Linked DNA regions of Homo sapiens. The protein of the gene in region 2 purifies or fractionates together with the protein of the main gene of each other region. This does not show direct contact. Each region holds a gene or a part of one and is shown on either strand. Other genes may lie near its edges.

The links. Proteins that work in one complex are often made in the same cells at the same time.
Region 1: the proteins of GFM1 (region 2) and MAPK13 purify together in Homo sapiens (co-immunoprecipitation; one large-scale study listed by IntAct). This does not show direct contact.

Annotation. Positions count from the first base shown.
Region 1 is NC_000006.12:36,137,013-36,141,392, reverse strand, and holds part of MAPK13 (mitogen-activated protein kinase 13), read right to left. Parts: intron 3,029-4,380; coding exon 2,949-3,028; intron 2,692-2,948; coding exon 2,613-2,691; intron 2,515-2,612; coding exon 2,338-2,514; intron 2,100-2,337; coding exon 2,020-2,099; 3' UTR 1-2,019. UniProt on the Homo sapiens protein: Serine/threonine kinase which acts as an essential component of the MAP kinase signal transduction pathway.
Region 2 is NC_000003.12:158,653,308-158,658,569, reverse strand, and holds part of GFM1 (elongation factor G, mitochondrial), read right to left. Parts: intron 5,261-5,262; coding exon 5,103-5,260; intron 4,024-5,102; coding exon 3,939-4,023; intron 1-3,938. UniProt on the Homo sapiens protein: Mitochondrial GTPase that catalyzes the GTP-dependent ribosomal translocation step during translation elongation.

The sequences.
Region 1 (4,380 bases), on a different chromosome or scaffold from region 2:
CTGTGGTTTATTTTTTAGAGCAGTTTTAGGTTGGTAGAAAGTATAGAGGTTCCCACCTACTTCCTCCCCTTCTCTCTCCTCAGTTTTCTTGATGAGTAACATCTTGCATTAGTGTGGCACAATTGTTACAATTTATGAACCAATACTGATACATTATTATTAACTGAAGTCCATAGTTTACTTGAGGGTTCACTCTGTGTTATCCAGTCCTACAGATGGTAACAAATGCACAATAGGTATCCACCATTACAGTATTATACAGAAGAGTTTCAAGGCCTTAAAAATGCTGTCTGGGCCTGCAGGGTGGCTCATGCCTATAATCCCAGCACTTTGGGAGGCCAAAGTGGGAGGATCACTTGAGTCCAGAAGTTCAAGATCAGCCTGGGCAACATAGAGAAACCCCGCCTATACAAAAAAGAAAAAAAATGTTTTAATTAGCCACCTGCAGTCCTGGTGCACCTGGGTGGCACAGACCTGTAGTCCCAGCTACTTAGGAGGCTGAGGTGGGAGGATGGCTTGAGCCCAGGAGGCTGAGGTTGCAGTAAGATGTAATTGTGCCACTGAACTCCAGCCCGGGTGACAGAGCCAGACCCTGTCTCAAACAAACAAACAAAAAAAAGCTTTCTGAGCCTCAGTTTTAACACCTGTAAGATGAGTGTGAAACTCCATCTGAAGCCCCCCAGTCTCCTCCTATAGGTTTTTGATTTAGGCCTCCCAACAAATCAAGTATGACTGAAATCCACTAAATGTCTCGAACTATGGTCTGATATCCATCAGAATCACTAGGCTTGGGTCAGGGCGAGAGGTCCTCATTCAAATGCACATTCTAAGGTCTCAACTGCAGACCTGCTGAGTCACAAGCCCTGGGGTGGGGCCCAGGAATCTGCATTTTAACAAGTCCCCTGGTGCACAAGGAAATTTGAGACCCACTGTGCCCGACAGCTTGTGCACATGGAAATTTGTTCTGCCAAAGTTTCTCAGATAAAAACAGAGAGGTTCTAGCCACTGTCAGGTCAAAGCTCTGGAGAGCTGTGCCATCTCCCAAAGGGAGCAGAACGGTTTGCCATCAAGCCAGGCAAGAGCCCATTTCTGCCTGTGCAGCTCGCAGTCTCCGAGCCTGCTGTTGTTTCATATCTTGATTGCTTATCACTCACCCAAAATAACCTGAATGCAATCGCACCAGCTGCAGCTCTCTCTGCAACTCCCTTAATTTAGCAGCCAAACACATTGGGTTCCTTCACAGAGCACAAGGCCTCAGCACGGGGCCCAGGAAGGGGCCCCTCCCTCCCAGCTGTCTGTAGTGAGTTGAATCATTTCCCCCTGGAATTCATGTCCACCTGGAACCTGAGAATGTGACTTTATTTGGAACTAGAGTATTTGCAGGTTTAATTAATAAGGATCAAGATAAGATCACACAGGATTAGGGTGGGCCCTAAATCCAATGACTGTTGTTAAAAGAGGAGAGAACAGAAGAGACAGAGACTGGAGTGATGCAGCAATAAGCTGGGGAATGCCACGGACTGCCCACTGCCGCCACAAGCTAAAAAGAGCCAAGGAAGGATTCTTCCCCAGAGCCTTCAAAGGGACCACAGCCCTGCCAACACCTCCATCCCAGATTTCCAGCCTCCAGAACTGTAAGGGAATCAAGTTCTGCTGTTTCAATCCACCAGGTTTGTGGTAATTCGTTAGAGCATCCCTAGGAAACCAACACAGCATCACTGCCATAGGCCCCCGGCCTGGCTCAGCGCCCACTCAGCCCCACTCTGGCGGGAAGGAAAGGGCCCCACCTGCAGGCGATTCTCCAGATGGGCAGTTTAACGTGGCCTGTTAGGATCAGAGCTAGTTTCTCCCAACCGACATCTTTGAATTCTGCATCTACTAGGCCCATTTCCCACATAAGGAGAAGGACCCTTCTGTCCTCTGCTTGAAAGGCTGTATTCCAAGAAGGGCTGAGTTTGGTAGTGACAAATACTGGTCCTTGGGCAGTGTCTGGCCGGCGGTGCCATGCAAGATGAGTCCCTACAGCTTCATGCCACTCCGGCGCCGTGAGTCCTTCCGGGCAATGGGGCTGAAGTTCACAATCTCCTTGTAGATGTGCTCTGAGAAAGGCAGCATGGTTTAAGGTGCGTAAAGAGGTGCTGTGGCGAGAAAGTCCACCCCCCTTCAGAGACAGCATGGAGAGCGAAGTCAGCTCAAGGAGAAAGAAGCACCCAGGAGACAATGCCCACCAAGAAGGAGGTGGCAGGTAGGGCTGGCAGAGGCCAGGCACAAAGATGGAGGAAGCAAGGAAGAGAGGCTGCAGGCGGAGGCGAGGAAGCCCGAGGCCCCAGCTCTTACGCTTCCATTCATCCACTGTGAGTTTCTCGTGTTCTAAGGAATCATCAAACGGCTGCTGGGCCTCCGTCTCTTCCTCAGGGTCCCGGAAGGGTTCAAAGAAGGGATGGGTGAGGGCCTGCGCGGCCGTCAGGCGCTTGTCCACGTCTAGCTCCAGCATCTTCTCCAGCAGGTCCGCAGCTGCAGGGGCAGAGCCAAGAGCCTCACACCAGGGGCTGGGAGAGCCCGCCCTCTGGGATACGCTGAGAGGCCCCTGGGGAGCGGGCTCTGAGACTCACCCTGGGGGCTGGCCCGTGGGAACAGCTGAGTGAAATCCTTCCTGGGGGTCTGTGGCAGGGACTGGATGTAGGATTTGGCCTGGAAGACAGAAAAGCATCAAACCCCTTAGGGCTCTGGCCTCAGCGTGTAGAGCAGGGATTTCAGAAAAGCCTCAGAGCAGGGCTGAAAGTTCAGGTCAGGGTCCACGGTGAGATTAAGACAAGAGTGCCTGCCAGGGTAGGAGGATGCTGTGGGAAGGTGCTGGTGAGCCTTCTTCCACAAAGGCCTGCAGCCCACTGGGCCCACGTCAGGCAAGCACACAGCCCAGGCCAGCCTAGGTCCCATTTACCACCCACCGCTTTGTCGTTCAGCTTCTGCACAAACTCCGTGCCAGGCACCCCGGTCACTTTCAGGATCTGGGTCAGCTGGTCCAGGTCTTGGTGGCAGGTTAAGGCTTAGCCTTGCTCTCCTGGTGGGTCTGAGACTGCCCTTCCTGCGACCCCACCATCACTTCACCCGGGCACCATGGCAACTGATCATCCAGGCTCCAGCCCTGCCTAACCACCTCCTGCTCTCAGGAGGAGGCTTATTCTTCAGGGCTCAGGGCTCTGGAGAGCTTTCCAACGTGCCAGGCTGAGGGGGGTCCCTACCCAACAAATGGATGTGGACTTCTCAGCCTTCATCCCAGTGACTCTTTTCTGTTTCCTCGTCTTCTCACCAAAGGCCTGCCCTGCACACACAGGTACTCAGTTAATGTGTGCCGTGCCAAAATGTATTTTCCACGTAGTGGTAGAATTTTTCATCATTTTGCTTATCTACATTTTTTTTTTTTTTTTTTTTTTGAGACAGGGTCTCACTCTGTCACTCAGGCTGGAGTGCAGTGGCACAGTCTTGGCTCACTGCAACCTCCACCTCCTGGGTTCAAGCGATTTTCCTGCCTCAGCCTCCCGAGTAGCTGGGATTACAGGCGTGAACCACACCCGGCTAATTTTTGTATTTTTTGGTAGAGATGGGGTTTGACCACGTTGGCCAGGCTGGTCTCGAACTCCTAATCTCAGGTGATCCGCCTGCCATGGCCTCCCAAAGTGCTGGGATTATAGGTGTGAGCCACCATGCCCACCCAACATTTTGTTTTTTTTTTTTTTTTTTTTGAGTTAGGGTCTCCCTCTGTCACCCAGGCTGGAGTACAGTGGCACAATCATAGCTCACTGCAGCCTCAACCTCCCAGGCTCAACCCTCCCACCTCAGCCTCTCAAGTAGCTGGGATTTTTCTTTTTCTTTTTTTTGAGACAGAGTCTTGCTCTGTCACCCAGGCTGGAGTGCAGTGGCGCGATCTCAGCTCACTGCAAGCTCCACCTCCTGGGTTCACGCCATTCTCCTGCCTCAGCCTCCTGAGTAGCTGGGACTACAGGCGCCTGCCACCACGCCTGGCTAATTTTTTGTATTTTTAGTAGATACGGGGTTTCCCCTTGTTAGCCAGGATGGTCTCGATCTCCTGACCTCATGATCTGCCCGCCTCAGCCTCCCAGAGTGCTGGGATTACAGACATGAGCCACTGCGCCAGGCCCATGTCTGGCTAATTTAAAAAACTTTTTTAGAGATGGGGTCTCCCTATGTTGCCACATCTGGTCTCAAACTCCTGGGCTCAAAGGATCCTTCCACCTCAGCCTCCCAAAGTGCTGGGATTACAGGCATGAACCACTGCGTCCAGCCTTATCTGCATTTACAAATTATTCTACAGGGAGTATGTATCACTCTCACATTAAGAAAAAAAAGACAGTTATTTAA
Region 2 (5,262 bases):
CTTGGAAAAACAACAAAGATACTATTAGAAACAGTAGGTGTGTGCTATACATCTAAAACACAATCTCTGACAATCACGTGGAAAATTATGTGAGTAAGAGTTCTGTGGCTGGGCTGGTCGCTCAGGCCTGTAATCCCAGCACTCTGGGAGGCAGAGGCGAGCGGATCACCTGAGGTCAGGAGTTCAAGACCAGCCTGGCCAACATGGCAAAACCCCACCTCTACTAAAAATACAAAAATCAGCCAGACGTGGTGGCACACCTATAATCCCAGCTACTCGGGAAGCTGAGGCAGGAAAATTGCTTAAACCCAGGAGGCGGAGGTTGCAGTGAGCCGAGATCGCACCACTGCACTCCAACCTGGGCAACAGAATAGGTGAGACTCTGTCTCAAAAAAAAAAAAAAAAAAAAAAAGAGTTCTGTGAAGTGATTGAATATACTAGCAGTGACCAATTAACATATATTTAACAGTTCCCAGTTCTTACCATGTTAATTATAGGCTTAACAAAATAGCAATCGAAATCCCAACAGGAAATTTTAAACATGATTAGTGATTTTAAAATTCATTCAGAGGAATAAATAGGTAAAAACAGAAATTTTTCAAAAACTATGGTAATAAGATAAAACTAACCCTGACAGATATAAAAACATATTAAAATGCTTGAAACTCAGAAAATTCAGAACCAGCACAAATTAGACTAAACACCCCACAGAGTACAGTATAAAAATCTAAAGTATAAAATATATTTGTCAATAGATGATAAAGAAACATGACAAATCAATGGAAAAGGAAGAAAGGATTGTGCATAAAGTACTAACTGGACAACTGATACTCTATTTGGAGGCAGAGGAGATACATTTAGATCCTACCCACTAAAACAAATTCCAGTTGAATTAATGATGGGGAAAGAAAAAAAACATAAAGAAGTAGAAGGAACGAAAGTAAATATTAACAAAATATATACAAATAAAAGGTTGCTAAGGTTAAAAATTAATGAATGACTAAACAGAAAGACTGACATATTCGACTATACAAACTTTAAAGCACTGATTGCTTTTAAAAATCAAAATTTATTTCATCAAGATAAAAGATTACAATAGAATTCTTCATTTGTTAAATCAGTAATGATTTTTAAACAATACTCAATGATGATATTCATTGAAATAATCCAATACATTAATTTGGAGAGTATGAACGCAATCTGGCAATATAAACCATTAACTATGAAAACATTCTATGCCTTTAACTCAATAATCACTATTCTGGGAATCCTAAGAAAATATTCTTATATATGTATTTTTAAAAGCTTTATGTGTAAATACTTTTACTGTAATGTTATTTCCACTTTTTAATTAAAAAAATTTTCCCCTCATTTTGGAGGTAATAAATATACTGTAAAATATTTTTAAAGTAAGAAAAAGCCCCCAAAATATAATCCCATCCCAGAAATAACCACTCTTAACACTTCCAACTTATCTACCATTTTTCCCCACTTAAAATATTATGTACAGAAGCAACAGCATTTCAACAAAAAGCCCATCCAGTCCCCAAATCTTGGTTTCTAATACCATTTTACTTAAAAAGGAACCAGTGCTCCTTGGAGAACGGCTGATTCTAGGGTTAGGGCATGGAATATACAAGATAAGCCTGAGGCGTCTTGTAGTGCCAGCAAGTAAGGAAGTATTCAAAAAGGCAAAACATTGGAAGATGTTAAAGGAACACAGGAGCCAACTGAGAGTTCCCAATCGCCAAACCCAGCCAATCTGAACAACAAATGACATACTCAAAGTCATAGTTATAACTCAAAGTTCAAAATACATATACGTGAGTCCACGCTGATATTAAATAAGTGATTGTCCAAATAGATAAATAAGCAGGGAAGAAAGACAAATCTCCCTTTCAGAAGAATTCCAAATAACTTATGTAGATAGTGCCCCCTTCAAGGGGGTGGAACATAATTCCCCCCTCAAGTGTTGGCTGAGCCAAGTGACTTCCTTCTAAAAAGTACACTATGAAAAGGGGAATAAAAAGAGTACAGTAACTTTACAGCAGAGAAACCTGTCAAACACTATCTCAGCCAGGTGTGGTGATTGAGGTTAGCATTAACAATGATAAATCAGCCGGGTGCGGTGGCTCATGCCTGTAATCCCAGCACTTTGGGAGGCCAAGACACTCGGATCACCTGAGGTCAGGAGTTCGAGACCGGCCTGACCAACAGGGAGAAACTATGTCTCTACTAAAAATACAAAATTAGCTGGGCGTGGTGGCGCATGCCTGTAATCCCAGCTACTTGGGAGGCTGAGGCAGGAGACTCGCTTGAACCTGGGAGGTGGAGGCTGCAGCGAGCCGAGATTGTGCCATTGCACTCCAGCCTGGGCAACAAGAGCGAAATCTCATCTCAAAAAAATAAAAATAAAAACAAAAAAAAACAAAAACAATGATAAATCATGCTGCAAGTCTGTACCTTGGATATGATGTGACAAGAATAACACTTCACCTCGATGGCAGTCCTCCTAAAAACACATGACTCCAATCTAATCATGTGAAAAGCATCAAATAATAAACCCAAATTGAGGGACACTCTACAAAAGAGCTGACCAATACTTCTCAAAAATATCAATCTCGTGAGAAACAAGGAAAGTCTAAGAAACTATTACAGCCTAGGAGATCATAAGGAGACATGACAATCAAATATAACGTGGTCCTCTGGATGGGCCTTCTGTGGTCCTTCTGTCTAGTGAGACGGAAAAAGGACCTAGACAAAAACTAAAGAAATTCAAATGAAGTAAGGATTTTAGTTAATAATAATATATCAGTATTGGCCCATTAGTTGTGACAGTGTGTATTAACAATAGAGGAAACTGGGTGCAGGATATACAGGAATTCTCTGGACTATCTTCATAACTTTTCTTTAAAATATTCTAAAATAAGTAAGTTTGTTTCTTTTTAAATCATAAACATCTTTTCATGTCAAAAATAGGCATTTCAACATAATTTTTAAAGTCTGAATAATGTTGTACTATAAGAATGTACCTCAGTTTATTTATCAAATTGTAATTACTGGGCATTTTCTTTTTTTTTTTTTCCGAGATGAAGTCTTGCTCTGTCGCCCAGGCTGGAGTGCAGTGGTGCGATCTCGGCTCACTGCAACCTCCACCTCCCAGGTTCAAGCAATTCTCCTGCCTCAGCGTCCTGAGTAGCTGGGATTACAGGTGTCCGCCACCATACTCAGCTAATTTTTGTACTTTTAGTATAGACAGGGTTTCACCATGTTGGCTAGGCTGGTCTCGAACTCCTGACCTTGTGATCCGCCCGCCTTGGCCTCCCACTCCTGACCTTCTGATCTGCCCGCCTCAGCCTCCCAAAGTGCTGGGATTACAGGTGTGAACCACTGCGACTGGCTGGGCATTTTCAATTGTTTGCGAGATTTTGGTTTTATAAGGTGAGCTGAAGCTAACATTAATTCGCTACCCTTCATTAGTTCCTTAGGACATATTTCTAGAAATGGACCCAATGTTATTTATAACAGTAGAAACCTGGAAACAATATAAACATCTAACAATTAGGAAATTTTAAGCAAATTTTGGTGTATCTACTTGATGCACTGTTATGCTACTATTTAAAATGCTTAAACTATTTATAGAAACATGGACCATTATCTACTGTGACATTAAATAAAAAGAGCAGGACAAAACTATACAGGTAGTATGATTTAGGTAAAAATTTACACTCTTCAGGCAAAGAGAAGAGACTAGAAAGAAATGCACCTAATAACAAAAGAACTATCATGTCAGAGCTTTGGAAATTCTCTACCTGCTCTTTCTACTTTCCTATTTTCCAAATCTTTCATAAAAGTCAGAGTCATTCTGTAATAGGAATAAAGCCTAGAAGTAAAAACATTCTACAGATAGCAGTTAAATACATTAGAAAGCAACTTACCTCCAGTTTAAAAGCCAGGCCTACAAATGGGTGGGAATTGTCTCTACTGGAGTTCATTAGGATTTTGGTTTTCTCTTTTGAGTCACTTAAAATAAAAGAAATATAAATCTATGAGATGTAATATATGATATTTCTTTTATATCAATTTATTTCATCAGGAAGTATTATCTGAGAAAAAGCACGTGTGTGGGATATTACTGCTGTCACACATAAGTAAAATTTCACTGAAAGAGATCAATAGAAATAAGTTCTCAGCTGGGCATAGTGGCTCATGCCTATAATGCCCACACTTTGGGAAACAGAAGTGAGAGGATCACTTGAGCTCAGGAGTTCGAGGCTGTGGTGAGCTATTACTGCACCACTGCACTCCAGCCTAGAAACCGAGCAAGACTTTGTCTCAACAAAAAAAAAAAAAAAAAAAAAAAAGGTCTTTAGAGCTTAGCTTAGTTACTACATAGTGATAGGACAAAAGTACACTAAAAAACACAGAAATGGTCTCATAGGGAAAGAAAAGAAAACATAACCAATGAGTTTCTTTTGCAGTTTGTTTCTTTTTTTTTTGGAATCTTATTCTGTCACCCAGGCAGGCTGGAGTGCAGTGGTGCAATCTCAGCTCACTGCAGCCTCTGCCCCGCCAGGTTCCAGTGATTCTCCTGCCTCAGCCTCCTGGGTAGCTGGGATTATAGGTGCACACCACCACACCCGGCTAATTTCCGTATTTTTAGTAGAGACGGGGTTTCTCCATGTTGGTCAGGCTGGTCTCAAACTCCCAACCTCAGGTGATCCGCCCGCCTTGGCCTCCCAAAGTGCTGGAATTACAAGCGTGAGCCACTGCGCCTGGCAGAAGTTTGTTTCTTAAAACTTTTTTTTTTTTAACAGTATGTCTGAAAACAGCTAGTCCCAAATGAGAAAATTTTCTAATGATGTAAACCTTGAGAGAGAGTAAAACAAATCATACTTCCAACTCAAAACAGAATATGATATAGGAACTAGTATAATAAATATTTTTCTATACGTCAAAATTGTTACCCAAATAAAAACCATGATTGTAAATTATGAAAAAAAATCACAGACATAATTAAAAGAACTATCCTTAAATTCCTTCACAGTGCATAAATACGAAAGTATTTCTGCATAAACTAAGATTCAATTTTCAAGACTTACTCCTCTTTATTGAGAATAGCATAGTTCTGGACTTCAGATGGATTTGGGAGGTATTCTAAAACAGCATCTAAAAGAGGCTGAACTCCTTTGTTCTTCAAGGCGCTTCCCAAAAATACAGGAGTAAATGATCTTTTCAGAGTAGCTCTTCGAATTGCTAGCT